Homo sapiens: one gene and its partner. The protein of the gene in region 2 interacts with the protein of the main gene of each other region in a pairwise test. Each region holds a gene or a part of one and is shown on either strand. Other genes may lie near its edges.

Region 1 (8,106 bases), on a different chromosome or scaffold from region 2:
TGGAGCTTGCGGTCACGTCCCCTCTGTCTGCCTCTTTCGCTCTTACAAGGGTGCTTGGTCCAAGGTGGTATTATGGGAAATCCTGTGATAAGGCAAGACATTCTGTAAGCAATTGGGTAGTCATGCCTGGAAGGCTCTACAAGCAAGGAAGACAAACCCAAACCCAAACCCAGAATATGCATCTGGGCCTATGGAAATCAACTTGCCACCGAGAGACGGCAGCCACCATACCATGGGCTGCCCATTGGCCTCTACGGCTGGAGAGGGCAGAGGCACTGTCTAGATCTGCCTTTTTCTGTGGGTCCCTGTAGCCTCCAACCCTGTGAATGGCCATTCCATTCACAGGCCCATTGTGCAGAGACTGCCTGACCTGCCCTAGCTGAATCATCCCATTTGCTCTGTGCTCTGCTGCGGATGCTGTCTGCCGGGCAGGCATTTGTGTAAGACACATAGATGGGCCAAATACTGTTTGTGTGAGGAGCATGTGTGAGTTCTTGAGCTGAGAGGCTGTGATATCCACAGCATGGTTATGCAGCTGCTTCCTGGCCACCCTCCTCTCCATCCAGCTCTTATGTTTCTCCAGCAGGTCTCCTACCTTTGGGAATTTCTGCACCAAAAGCAGGCACATACTCTTGGTCACATATAGTCCTGAGGGCAGCCCAACTCCGCCAAGAACTCCACACTGATGCTCAGCTCCACTCTGACAGCAGCAAGCACAGGCTCGTGGGTGCCTCGAGCCAACAGGTACTAACCCAGATTAAAACAGCTGAGTGAATTCCTCATAAGCTCCAAAAGGCATCTAACCCAGATTAAAACAGCTGAGTGAATTCCTCATAAGCTCCAAGAGGCGTCTAACCCAGATTAAAACAGCTGAGTGAATTCCTCATAAGCTTCAAGAGGTGTCTTACCCAATTGCTGGGGGCTTTCTTTTCTTCCTTTTCTTTTTTTTTGACAGCGTCTCACTCCGTAGCCTAGGCTGGAGTGCAGTGGCACAATCTCGGCTCACTGCAACCTCCGCCTCCAGGGTTCAAGTGATTCTCCTGTCTCAGCCTCCCAAGTAGCTGGGACTACAGGCACGTGCAACCACGCCCGGCTAATTTTTTGTATTTTTAGTAGAGACGGCGTTTCACCATGTTAGCCAGGATGGTCTCAACCTCCTGGCCTCATGATCCACCCGCCTTGGCCTCCCAAAGTGCTGGGATTACAAGCATGAGCCACCGCGCCCGGCCAGGGGGCTTTCTCTATAGTGCGGGGAGACTTTAGGGTGACCATATAGCGTCTAAAAGGAACACTTTTGACAGTAAAAAGGGCACTCAATAATTAAGCCTTCATAACAGACACAAATCAGTCATCCCACGCAAAGTGGAACATGTGGTCACCTTAGTTATCTGCCTTCTTTGCCAGTTCAAGTGGCCAATTCCAGGATAACCAGAAAAACCCATCTAAATATCCTGTCACACCAGCTTAAACCCCATGATCCTGTCTGATGTTATTTCTCTGCATAGAACCCGAACTCCTCTGTTCCCTGCTCCATCTTCTGTGTCAAACTCCAATCTCAGCTACAACTAATTTTCTAACTCCCTGCCTGCACTAGAGCAGCCAAAACAACACAAGCAGGCCGACTGGTTCCATTTGAGACTTAAGACCACACATCCCAAGTGGGCATTCTGCCCTGCCTGGCAATCTGGCTACATATCCTTAACAATTCGCCTTACAATGTCTAAGTTAACAATCTCACCCCTTCTCAGTCCTCCCTCGTCCCCACCCCCTGCTCACAGATGATCTTGTTGGTTCCTTTGTTAACACAGAAGCAACCAGAAGAGTATTTTCTCACTTTCTCCTCACCATGTCTACCAACCCACAGCTATAGCTTCACATTCCGCTCACTCTCCTACTACACAGCTCAACTCTGGTGGCTCCTAAGAACAACCTCTGCCCTCGTGCAACAGGTCCTACCCTCTCTTACCTTTCTCAAAGACTTGCTCTGCAGTTGCTCCCTCTCTCCTGCATCAGCGGTTCCCTCTTTACATGTTTTGTTAATAGCTCCCATCTTAAAACAGACTTTTTCCTTGATACCATGCCTCTCTAGCAACTACCGCCCATCTCTGCTCCCTTTGTCACACAACTCCTCAGAGGGGTTGTCAAAGTAGCCAGATGAAAATACAGAACATCCAGTTAAATGTGAATTTCAGATAGTAACAATTTAGTATACGTATGTCCCGTGCAATATTGGGGCCGTACTTTTACTAACAAATACTAAAACTGTGTCTGGAATTGGTAAGTTCTTGGTCTCACTGACTTCAAGAATGAAGCCGCGGACCCTTGCGGTATGTGTTACAGTTCCTAAAGGCGGCGTATCTGGAGTTTGCTCCTTCTGATGTTCAGATGTGTTCGGAGTTTCTTCCTTCTGGTAGGGTCGTGATCTCGCTGGTTCAGGAGTGAAGCTAGAGACCTTCGCGGCGAGAGTTACAGCTCATAGAGGCAGTGTGGACCCAAAGTATAAACAGCAGCCAGATTTACCCCAAAGAGCAAAAAAATAAAACTTCCACAGTGTGGAAAGAAACCGGAGCAAACTACCACTGCCAGCTCGGGCAGGCTGCGTTTATTCTCTTATCTGGCCCCCACCCACATCCTGCTGATGATTGGTCCATTTTACAGAGAGCCGATTGGTCCATTTTACAGAGAGCTGATCGGTCCATTTTGACAGGGTGCTGATTGGTGCGTTTACAATCCCTGAGCTGGACACAAAAGTTCTCCACCTCCCCACGAGATTAGCTAGACACAGATTTTGGACACAAAGGTTCTCCAAGTCCCCACCAGAGTAGCTAGATACAGAGTGTCGATTGGTGCATTCACAAACCCTGAGCTAGACACAGGGTGCGGACTGGTGTGTTTACAAACCTTGAGCTAGATACAGTGTGCCGATTGGTGTATTTATAATCCCTGGGCTAGACATAAAGGTTCTCCAAGTCCCCACCAGACTCAGGAACCCAGCTGGCTTCACCCAGTGGATCCCGACCGGGGCCGCAGGTGGAGCCGCCTGCCAGTCCCGAGCCATGCGCCCACACTCCTCAGCCCTTGGGTGGTCGATGGGACTGGGGGCCGTGAAGCAGGGGGCAGCGCTCGTCGGGGAGGCTCGGGCGCACGGAAGCCCATGGCGGGGGGGGTTGGCTCAGGCACTGCAGGCTGCAGGTCCCCAGCCCTGCCCCGCGGGAAGGCAGCTAAGGCCCGGGGAGAAATTGAGCACAGCAGCTGCTGGCCCAGGTGCTAAGCCCCTCACTGCCCAGGGCCGGCGGGTTGGCTGGCCGCTCCGAGTGCCGGCCCGCTGAGCCCACGCCCACCCAGAACTCGCGCTGGCCCGCAAGTGCCGCACGCAGCCCGGGTTCCCACCAGCGCCTCTCCCTCCACACCTCCCCACAAGCTGAGGGAGCCGGCTCCGGCCTTGGCCAGCCTAGAAAGGGGCTCCCACAGTGCAGCGGTGGGCTGAAGGGCTCCTCAAGCACAGCCAGAGTGGGTGCCAAGGCCGAGGAGGTGCCCAGAGCGAGCGAGGGCTGTGAGGGCTGCCAGCACGCTGTCACCTCTCAAAACAATGTTTTAGTAGAAGTATATCCCATGCAACATTAGTTTAGTGATAAATATATCTATACTACAAATTACTTGTTGTTTATCTGAAATTAAACTTTACTGGGTATTTGTATTTTTATTGCTAAATCTGCCAACCTAGGTTGTTGAAACTTACTTTTTTCCACTTCACTTAATATTCTTTTCACAGTCCACTCTGACGAGATGTAGCTTCCCCACACTCCTTTGAAACTGCTTTTGTCAAGGATGCCAATGACTGGCATATGCCAAACTCAATTGTCTCTGGAGTCTTGGCCTCACAGTACTTCTGAACATTGGCTATCAATTCCTCCTTCCTGAAACTATTTAGCTTCCAGAATCCGCTACCCCCACTTTCCTGATTGTCCTTCCTCCCTGGCCATAGCCCCTGAACCCGAGCTTCCCCCAACCTAGAGCATCCCCTGACCCTAAGTATCCCCCCAACCCTGAGAACCCCCTGACCCCGAGTATCCCCCGACCTCGAGAACTCCCCGACCCCGAGCATCCCCCCAACCCCCAGCATCCCACGACCCCGGGCATCTCCCCCGATCCTGCGCATCCCCTGACCTGGTATGGCGCCCTGACCCAGTGCAGCCCTCAAACCCCTGCAGCCCCCTGACCCCATGCATCCTCCTGACCTAGGGCTGCCCCTGACTCAATGTTGCCCCCGGACCCCAGTGCCTCCTCCTGACCTGAGGCACGCCCCCCAACCTGGTACAGTCCCCTGATTCCAGTGCATCCTTCTGACCCAGTGCTGCCTCCTAACCTGGTGCATCCTCCTTACCCAGTGTGGCCCCCTGGGGATGCACACTCCAGTGCATCCTCCTGACCTGATGCTTCCTCTGGTCTCGGTGCAGCCCCCCTGACCTGGTGCAGCCCTCTGATTCCATGCATTCTCTTGACCTTGTGCATCCCCCTGTTCCGGAGGGGTCCTCTGACCCGATGCAGGGCCCATCGTTGTGAACTGTGGCCCACAAACGCACTATCATCCCACAGTCTCCCTGAGATGACCCGAGGGCACGGGGATGGATGGTGCACCCGGCCTGCCCCTTGAGCTTGTATCCTTCTTTCCCTCCCTCACCGCTTCCCGCCACCGCAAAGACGCCCAGCAAAAACCTCCTACTCGTGTCCATTCAGGCAGCTGGGTCCCTCGGAACCCAAGGCATTCCAGCGTCCACCGCCCACGGCCCCTGCTGACCTCCAGCACCCGCGCCGGTCTCCTCCCCTCCTCTACCCTCCCCTGAAGGCTCCGCCCATCGAGGACTCGGCGCTCGACTGCCAGGCGGATCTACACGCTCGGCGCTCGCGGCGGGCGGAAGTGAGGTGCCGGCGGCTGGCGGCCGCGGAGTCTTCGGCGAGACCTACCGGGCCCTGTCTGTGCCGGCCGTGAGCTGCGGCAGGACGGCTGGAGGTATGTGTGGGAGGCTGGAGGGCCTGGCCGAAGGCCAGCGGGACATGGACGTCAGCTGCACGGAGGTGGCCGCCTGCGGCGTCCGTCCAGGCCTCAGCGGTGAAGGGACAGCCGCGCCCACTGGCGCCGTCGGTCACCTGCGGGGCCCCGCGACCCCCCGCGGTTCCCAGCCCCGCAGCCCCCATCCCCGCCGTCAGCCGCCTGCTGGGCTCCGCGCCCACCCCCGCCAGTTCGCACCCCCGCGGTCCCCACCTGCGCCGGTGAGGGGCGTGGGCTGCAGAGGGCTGACTCCAGGCCCCGCCCGCTGGAGCTGGCCCCAGACTGCGCCGCTTCGCCCTTGCGCAGTTGCCACTCCGTGAGATTTGAGAATTTCTCCGGAAAAGTGAACGCGAGGCGGGTGTTACCTGTCTGCCTAGGCGTGCATCCCGCTCTGGCTGTCCTGAGCGCTTAAAAGGCGCCTGCCGCTGTTGTCAGCGTTTGCGTGCACGTACTTGATCCTCGCGCGGGTGTATGTACGCTGCCGTGTGACCCATTTTACGGATAGGGGAGCGGCGGCTCAGAGTGCTTGAGCAAAGAGCCTGAGGTCCTGTTGTAGCTGCCATTGAGACCTTGCGCGCCGGCTCCAGGTCCGCACACCAGCAGCCTGGAAGCCTGGTGATGCGTAACCCTGTATCCCAAGATTGTTAAGAAAACACTTTAGTAATTCCGAGAAATAGTTCTTGAAAGAACTCGTCTTTGAATGGAAGTAAGTTATTTTTAATCTGCCAAAGGTCAACATACTAATAAGTCTGAGAAATTTTAAGTCTGATGCCTTTATGAATCTGTGAGTAAACTTACAAGGAACACTTAAAAAATATTTTTTCTAAGTTAGCCACACTTTAATTAAATCTTTTTGTGTGCACTATGCAATATTGAAAAGTTACTTCTGAGCTTATGTGGATCTGTCTTCTAATGCATAATAATGTTTTGTTTATGAATGTTAGTATGTACTGGCCCATGCTTTGTGTAACTGACTCCTTTAATGACAAATCAACTGAAAGCCAGAATCTTCTCAAAGATGATTTTTTTGTGCTAAAAGTTGGCGATTCCCAGAGTAGTAATAGAAAGAGGGTGATGTGTGCTTAGTACTTACATGTTCACTTGTTTGTCTAAGTAGAAACTTAATAAATTAAAGCAGAGAAGCAGAGTTCCCCCAGTGTGACTTGGACCAACTCTTGGAAGTTTTAGAAAGTGATCTTTTTTTCTTGTCAAGTATTTAATTTCCTGTATTGAATGCCATTTTGAACTACAGTTGACCCTTGAACAACACTGGGGTTAGGGGTGCCCACGCAGTCAAAAATTTCCATGTAACTTTTGACTTTCCCAGGACTTTACTAATAGCCTACTGTTGACCAGAAGCCTTACTGATACATAAACAGTTGACTTACATGTATTTTGTATGTTATACGTATTATATACTGTATTCTTAAAGTAAGCTGAGAGAGGAAAATGTTAAAATCACAACAAATGTATTTACTCTTCTTTAAATGAAAGTGGAGAATCATGAAGGTTATTATCCCCATAGTCTGCATGAGTAGATTGTGGAGGAGGAAGAAGAGGAGGGATTTTCTCAGGAATGGCAGAGATGGAAGAGATGGAGGAAGTGAAAGGGGAGTGGGAGATGCAGGCACACTCAGTGCAACTTTTGTTGAAAAAATCCGTGTATAAGTGGATCTGTCTCATTCAAACCCATGTTGCTTAAGGGTCAACTGTATTACTTTTCTAAAAGATGGTTATTAACTTGCTAAGTTCTTGGGAGCCCATTATGTAAGAATCATATGGGAAATGAAGTTGGTACTGAAAAAATAGTCTTCTAGCAAAGAACTTTTAATATTTCTAGTGTCAAGCAGCAGCAAGATTAGGCCATACAGGAAGTGCTGGTTACAGAGGTGTCCTCTCAGTTACTTTTCCACTCATTCTCCAGTTTACGCATCTTAATCCAGCCTGGGTTCCTAGTCCAGCGTCTGCCACATAGTAGGTGCTTAAATGTTTATTGAATGGATGAATTTTAGGTCACTGTTGAGAGGATTTTGAAACTGGGAAATAACATTCATTGATCACTCTGCTAAGCGGTGTACTAGGATGTTGATTGTACTCAGATCCTGGGGAATATGTTCTTGGACCTTCTGGACTGCCTGCTGAAATCACATGGTGATAGTGTGGACTTCTAATCATATGCTTTAGAGTATGTTTATATTAGTCAAAAATTATTATTGATATGAATACACAAACTTAAAAGTAATTGTAATGAAATTATGAATCTTTTTTGTATTTTTAAAGACAGAGTCTCACCCTGTTGCCTAGGCTGAAGTACAGTGGCGAGATCTCTGCTCAGTGCAAGCTCTGCCTCCCGGGTTCACGCCATTCTGCCGCCTCAGCCTCCCAAGTAGCTGGGACTACAGGCGCCCGTCACCACGCCCGACTAACTTTTTGTATTTTTAGTAGAGACGGGGTTTCACCGTCGCGATCCTCGTGACGGTGGACCTCGTGATCCACCCACCTCGGCCTCCCAGAGTGCTGGGATTACAGGCGTGAACCCCTGCGCCGGGCCGGGAAATTATGAATCTTAAAGCGATGGGTGACACACGCATCGGCATCCTTCAATCTCAGTTTGTTTATTGATTGAAAGGGGGTCTTGTTCTGTCACCCAGGCTAGAGTGCAGTGGCACAGTCACAACACACTGCAGCCTTGAGCGCCATGATTCCAGAAATCCTTCTACCTCAGCCTCCCAAGTAGCTGGGACTATAGGTGCGTGCCACCGGGTTCGGCTCATTTTAAAAATTATTTGTGGAGGTGAGGTCTTCCTACGTTGCCCAGGCTGGTCTTGAACTCCTGAATGCAAGTGATGCGCTGGCCTCAGCTTCCCAGTGCTGGGACTATAGGTGTGACCCACTGTGCCTGGCTGATCTCAATTTGAAAATCACAGAGTCAAAAGGTATTTTTGGCTTAGGCGTCAAAGCAACTATACACTGGTCCTTGGTCTAATCTGGTCTGCTTCATAGTACTGGCTGAGTTGCTTAGATGCTTTGGACTGTTTCCTTTTTTGTGTATTCAG
Region 2 (7,701 bases):
ACAATATAAAGAAAAGCTGACGGCGGAACACGCGCTTCCCATTGCAGATTACAACTAAACGGACTTAGGTTGTACAATATATGTATCCTATATGTATATCTATCCTATATGTATATGTCTCCTAAGATACATGTTTTTATGTACGATACATACAAATAGATGTATCTTGCCGAAGTGCGTCTAAAGCAAACCCCTTCTAATACCAACATTCTAAATACCAATGTTCTTCTAGCATCACTTCAAGTGAAAATAAAGCTTGGATAAAAATCTCTCCCTTGTCAGGTAATGAAAGCAAAGGGGAATGTTTCTGCACAAGAAAGAGAAACAGAAGACAGGATATAGGGGATTCAGATGCTGATGCTGCAGAACAAAAAGCAGACGTGTCCACTGTGTGGCTGCCAAAGTGCTATGTGCTTAGATTCTACAAGCACATGGATATGCAGTGAGAGCTAGTGAATGAGGTCAAGGCAGAAAGCCTCATCTTTAAGGCACAGCGTTAAAATTTTAGCTGTGTGGCAACCACCTTGAACTTTAATTTTAAAAAGAAAAAAGGCCTAACAATAGCAATCCCTGATAGGTGGATTTTCAAATTGTCAGCATTCATCATTGTCACTCAAGGTCACCCTTTTATTAGCTTCAGAGATTTGAATGAGAAAGTATGCTGGGATGGGATAAGAGATAAAAAAAAAAAAGAGATCCCAGAGATTTGAGTTCTGAGAGCAAATACTATTTAGAGACTACACTACAAAGATGGAACACTGTGGCTCTGTCAGTGAACAGTAAGGTGAAAAGAACAAATCTGACCAATAACTCAATGAGAGCAAAATCAAGAAGCTCCACGTATCTTTCAAGGGCACCTCCAGGGGAACCTCCTAGAAGCAGCCAGGCCCGCCCACCCTGCTCCTGAAGAGCAAGGCTGTGGAAGGTGAGAGCACACACAGAAGCTAATGACGTCCATCCCTCCAGCCCAGCCTTCACAAACCAATGGCCTCGTCCCACCATCCTTCCCAGGACCACACCAACAGTAAGCATAGTCCGCCGGGTGTGGTGGCTCACACCTGTAATCCCAGCACTTTGGGAGGCTGAGGCAGGCAGATCACTTGAGCCCAGGAATTTGAGACCACCCTGGGCAACATGGTGAAACCCCATCTCCACAAAAAACAGCCAGTGTGGTGGTGCACACCTGTAGTCCCAGCTACTTGGGAGGCTGAGGTAGGAGGATTGCTTGAGCCCAGGAGGCAGAGGTTGCAGTGAACTGAGATCACACCACTCCAGCCTGGTGTCACAGTGAGACTTTGTCTCAAAAAAGAAAAACCCAAAAGAACACATTAAGCATACTCTAATGAAGCCTCATGACAAAGTAAAAGGTTCTGTGAGTTGTCTGAAATACAAGGTGACATCCTCTCAATGTTTCTCATTATAATCATGATAATGGCTTAGACATTCATAGGAATCAGAATCTTCACCTAGTTTTCATAAATGGTTCCCTAAAACCCAGCAGATGAGATGCCTCCATTCTGCTGTTTCTCAGGTCTGTTTCTGAGAAATACACAGAATTCACGCCTACCTTGTCCACGTTGGCCCGGGTCTTCGCTGACGTCTCCACGTACTGCACGCCCCACTCTTCGGCTTTACTCCTGGCCTCCTCCACAGGCACCTGCCTCCGCTCCTCTAGGTCAGACTTGTTTCCCACGACGAGCAGTGGAATTTTATCTTCTTCAGCCTTCACACGGAGAATCTGTTCCCTAAGGTGTTACACCAAAAATACAGCAGCTAAAAAAACTAAAGAACGAACCCTGGTTTTGTGAACCCATCTAAAATAAAAGGCTTTCCTAAGGCAGAAGGAAAAAAAAAAATCACTAGATTTAGGGCATGTTCTGAGAAAGCACTCCCTAGAGGCAGTCATGAGCAAGACAAGTGTTTTCCAAGTCTGCTTCTCAGTTTGCCCACATCAGAATCCCCTGGGATGCTCATCACAAATGCAGATTTCTGGGCTCAGTCTTACAGAAGTGTCTGGATAGGAGCCCAGGATTTTACGTCACAACAGGGTCCCCAACTTATGCACACACAAAAAAAAAAACAAAAAGAAGAAAAATGGTCAATCTCTGCAATAAAAACAAGCTAAGGGAACTATCTCCATAAAATGCTTAATTCCCCTGAAAATATTTGTTTGTGACATAAAAGCTATGAAATCCAGTGTTTTCTATATGGAAGGTGGCAGCCTATTAGTGGATCACAAAACCAATCTAGTGGGTCGCAACCAGCAGTTTCTCCCCCCTGCAGTGAAATAGATTATAGAACAGAACTGACCAGATCAGAAATATCCAAGGGAATCTCAAGTAGGAAAGGTGAATATTGTATTGTTTTGAAACTTCAGTTTTGATTAGATCTGCATGTGTACACGACAAGTATGTCATCCCATCCCCAGTTTCCATGCAGACACAGTAATGTTATAGGCCACAGAATCGAGACAGATATGTTAGGCAGTAATCACATTCCAATACGTACCATTTTTCTACTACAAAGTGAAAAAAATGAAAGGAAATACGACAAGCCCTATGGAAAAGTACTTCAAAAGTGTCTTCTACAAAAATACCATTACTCGTAGCATATTAAATTTTACGTCTACTAAAAATTATCAGCTATCTGAAAGTACTAATCAAAACTAAATATTTAAAAAAATTAAATACCCCATTTCCATTATTTTGGTCCCATGAGAATATTTCTACTTTTATATGCCAATACATTCTAAAAAGAGTCCCCTTCAAAAATGTATTTTGTAGAGATCTGTATTGATTTTTATATGGTATAGGGTAACATTTCACAATAATAAAAATATTTTCTAGGCGTGGTGGCTCACATCTGTAATGCCAGCACTCTGGGAGCCTGAGGAGGGAGGAACACTTGAGCCCAGGAGTTCAAGACCAGCCTGGGCAACATAGGGAGACCTTGTATCTACAAAAAAAAAAACAAAAAAAAAAACTAAAATTTTCATGTAGTCAATTTAAGTGCCAGACATCAAATATTTTAAGACAAACTAAAAAAGATGAAAAGATGCTTGAAATTGGCTTTGTGTAGCCTTGTTATAGCCTACATTTGAACTGGGGTCAAAGAACATGATACATTTGAAGTCATGTGATCATTATAAACTATGAACAATAAAAACTGATAGCTTTCTGGCTCATTAGTCTTGCAGGGGCACACAAAATTACCTCATTGATAAACATATCGATCCAAAAATGGGAGTACCAAGTTCTGGTCTCTTATGACAGAACTTATCTTAGTTCATAAAATATTTTCCAGAAAAAGTTTCAAGGAAGACAGCATATTCACATGTCATTTTATATTGGGGCCTTTCTATTTGGAAGATAGTACACAAATGCTGTTTTAAAACTGCTAACAGACATGAAGTAAAGTGACTTGAGTTTAGCCACAGGGCTCAGATAATTGACCTGCATTCTTCTGTTCCCAACAACATGAGAAACCTACGCAGAGGTCAACTTCCCCTTCTTTCTGGTTTTAGGTATTCATCTGTCCTTTTTCTTCTAAGGATCTCTCTTTCCACCTAACAACCAAAACCCTTTTCCACATTGAGGGGAGCCCTGCTCCAACTCTGTGAGAACGCCCGAGTGCTATCTGTGCATGTGTGGTGACTGAGGAGAGGACAAGGAGCACTTGAAATACCTGTATTTCTCCATATCCTCTGCAGAGAACTCTCCTGCCCACTTCCCTTCTAAGTAAGTCACAGAACAACAGGAAATCAAAAGGCTCGGGACAGGGAAGAAAAGAAGAGAGTGTGTGCATCTGTCCTGTTTTACCCTCTATGAGGCATTAAAAACAGGACTACGCAGATGCAAACAATTATAAATACATGGGCTACATTCAAACAGAGCAGCCCTTAGGAAGGTCTGAAATGTCTAAAAATTAACAGAACTTCTCATAATGAGTCATAGTCACTTAACTAGTCACTGCACCACACGCACTCTGCTTCCAGAAAAGTAGGTCTTCGACTCTGAAGCCTGGAGCTATGAAGCATCACTGAGGCACCTCCCTATTATCTTTCACTAGCCCTGCTGGGTGACCTGTGCTCACCCGAGGCCTCCCTGGCTCAGTGATGCTTCCATCCAAGTCCTGGAAGGATAGCTAGCTTTCTCCTTTTCACCTCTGGTTGACCACCTTACTGTCAGACCAGAACTTGCTGAAGAATGAAAAAAACTGATTTGATTTTTGGGTTTTTTCTCTTCAGTTCCCTACTAAACTCTAGATCTGCTTCTTAAAAAGTCATCTAGATAGATATGTTTATAAGAAGAACAGATTTTTTAAAACTCAATTATGTAGGAGAAAGGGAAGGGCATGGGGTAAAGAGACATTTATAGAGCATAAGAATTATGCCCAAAAGGCTATTTCTTTATAACAAAATGAACTGAAGGTATTTTTTTCACTGCTATATTTTCTTTTTCTTTCTTCTCTAACACCTTCATGGAGAATAGTTGCCATATTTTAAAATAAATAACAATGGATATTCTACTCACTATGGAAGCACCATGTGTCTACACTGTGACAGGGGACAATGGAGGGTAGCCAGGTTCTTGCCCACATGAAATTCACAGTCTAATACATCCTTTCATTTCATTTCTCAACTCACAAGTGCATTTCCAGAGAAAGAAACAAAATCCTGACACTAAGTAAACTTGCCCATGGTCAGTGAGCGGCAAGGCAGGGATTCAAACCAGGTCTCCTGACTCTAAAGCCGCGTTCTCGTCCCTCCACTGTGCTGAAAGTCCTTAAGTAGCAGCAAATGGTCATTTTGACTCCCATCTTTCACTTTCCAGTCATTGTTTCATAACCTTCAACACAGACTAAACCTGCTACTTTTTTTAGTAACATTATTTAAAGGATAGATGGTTAATTTATCAATGAAAATCTCTGAGTATTTATAGGAACAAAATTATATGTTCTTGATTATATGGAATAGCTTCATTGTTTTCGGGGACAGTAAGACTCTTAAAATTATTTTATTCAGAAATCACAGATCAGGAAAGCCCAAAGAGATTATAATCATCATAGTCTATAATGTGCCAAGATTCAGAAAGCCCCAGAAGATTCTTTAGACAGAATTATTCCTGAGAACAAGCTCAGCCCTCTCCTAGTATGCTCAGCCCCAAATTCTTCATAGGCCTAAGACATATGAGAAAAGGCAAAAAGCTTCCTGGGGGCTTCTGCTATTTCATTTCAGACATACCTGAATTCGGCAGTTGCTGTAAAGGATTCATGTTCTGTGATTGAGAACACAAGAAGAAACCCTTCCCCACTCCGAAAGTAGTTATCTCGAATGGCTGCGTAGTCCTCTTGCCCAGCGGTGTCCAGAATATCTATCTGAACTTCTTCCCCATCAAGAACCACTTTCTTTCTATAACTGTCAGCTTTGGTAGGTTCATAGTCTTCTACAAACTGAGGAAATAAACATTATCGGTAATTAACAAAGTCTTAAGGGGAACAAAATCTGCCAAAAAACAAAATTCCACATATGGGCACTTCACACTATGAACAGGACACTACAGAAGCAACATTTTACGTAACACTTCTGTTCTTTATAGCTCTGTTTTGCCATTTTTTGTTTTTAAACAATACAGGCAGATATCCCAATTTACAGATGAGGAAACCAGGCACAGAGCAGAACACTTGGCAATATTATTGTCAGTATAAAATTTTAATGCAAACACCTGCAAGGGTGAGAAACTGGAATTCTTTTTTAATTATACTTTAAGTTTTAGGGTACATATGCACAATGTGCAGGTTTGTTACACATGTATACACGTGTCATGTTGGTGTGCTGCACCCATTAACTCGTCATTTAACATTAGGTATATCAAAAAACTGGAGTTCTTATTCATAACGGAAGTATAAAATTCATCTGAAAAGTAATTTGGCAAGATGTATGATATGGTCTGGTTCTGCATCCCCACCCAAATCTCATCATTTAGGTTGTAATCCGAATTATCATCCCAATGTGTTGGGGAAGTGACCTTATGGGAGACAATGAGATCATGGGGGCGGTACCCCTATGCTGTTCTTGTGATAGTGAGTTCGTTCTCACAGGACCTGATGGTTTCATAAGGGGCTTTTCCCCACTTCGCTCTGCACTTCTTCCTGGCGCCTTGTGAAGGACATGTTTGCTCCCCCTTCTGCCATGATTGTAAGTTTCCTGAGGCCTCCCCAGCCCTGTGGAAGAAAAGAGGCTATACACCTCTTTTCTTTATAAACTACCCAGTCTTGGGTATTTCTTCACAGCATCAAGAGAATGAACTAACACAGTGTACCAAGAGGCTTTCAGTGGTGTGGGTTTTTGAGAAAGGAATGAAGTAGTACCAACGCACGCTGCAACATGGAACAACTTTCAAAACATGATGCTGAGTGAAAGAAGTTAGACATAAAGGCCACATATTGTATGATTCCATCTATATGAAATGTCCAGAATAGGCAAATCCATAGAAGCAGAAAGCAGTTGCCAGAGGCCAGGGGTGGGACGGGGAAGCAATAACGGGGAATGACTACTAATACGTAGGTTGGTTTTTTTTGGAGTGATGAAAGTGATCTAAAATTAGATAATGGTGATGGTTGCACATCTGTATGAATATACAAAAAAAACCTATTAAATTGTACACTTTAGGCCGGGGCAGGCAGATCACCTGAGGTCAGGAGTTCGAGACCAGCCTGGCTAACATGGTGAAAACCCATCTCTACTAAAAATACAAAAGATTAGCCAGGTATGGTGGTGCACACCTGTAATCCCAGCTACTCAGGAGGCTGAGGCAGGAGAATCACTTGAACCTGGGAAGTGGCGCTTGCAGTGAACCAAGATCGTGCCATTGCACTCCAGCCTAGGCAACAAGAGAAAAACTACATCTCAAAAAAAAAAAATTGTACACTTTAAAAAGAGCGAATTTCATATGTGCATTACATCTTAATAAGGCTGTGATTTAAAATTTTTTTAACTTAAAAATGGAATTGAAAATGTCCAAGTGAATTAAAGGTTATTTGAGGAAGACTGTTAAAAAGAGCCTTGTATTGTCAGTTAACAGCTACTCAAAAATAAAAATATTAAGACATGTTTAGTATTAGGTTCTCTTCAACGTGTACTAATAAATTATCTCCAAATAGAGATGTGAAAACTTGCCTGTGCTTTCAAGTGTCCTTCTTTTAACTCCTTTCCAAAAAGAAAAATACACGCCAAAAAAATCCAACACACGACTGTCCCCTGAAAATCTCTGAATTCTACCATAAATTATCTCAACTGTATATTTCTGAGCTTCCAAGGATAAAGCCAGCCAGAGTTCCACTGGCTCCTTTGACACAGAAGTCAGAATGTCCTGCTGTACCTACATACCTCTGTACTCAATGAAAAGTATGCTGATTACCCCAACATTCCATTACAACCCTGATGTTTATTTACATTGCTCAGCTGGAAACAGAAAATCACAAAGTCTTTGTATCCATTAGCGTGAACCATACGTATCCCCTACTGGCCTTGCAGAGCTCTGCATGGCTCAGTTTCAGATGCCCAAGAGTCTAAGACAAACTTCACGTGGACCCTTTCTTTCTAAGCTGACTTTCCTCTAAGCTGCCAGAGACTGAAAGTCTGAAACGGTTGCTGCCAAAGCCTCTCCATCCCCAACCTTACTCTCCCAAAAAAGGCAAAAA

What was found. Proteins that work in one complex are often made in the same cells at the same time.
Region 1: the proteins of RALB (region 2) and EXOC2 interact in a two-hybrid assay, tested with the Homo sapiens proteins (2 studies listed by BioGRID).

What each region holds. Positions count from the first base shown.
Region 1 is NC_000006.12:689,924-698,029, reverse strand, and holds the start of EXOC2 (exocyst complex component 2), read left to right. Parts: upstream 1-4,890; 5' UTR 4,891-5,011; exon of another isoform or gene 5,012-5,756; intron 5,757-8,106. UniProt on the Homo sapiens protein: Component of the exocyst complex involved in the docking of exocytic vesicles with fusion sites on the plasma membrane.
Region 2 is NC_000002.12:120,283,624-120,291,324, reverse strand, and holds part of RALB (ras-related protein Ral-B), read right to left. Parts: intron 5,452-7,701; coding exon 5,243-5,451; intron 1,746-5,242; coding exon 1,568-1,745; intron 1-1,567. UniProt on the Homo sapiens protein: Multifunctional GTPase involved in a variety of cellular processes including gene expression, cell migration, cell proliferation, oncogenic transformation and membrane trafficking.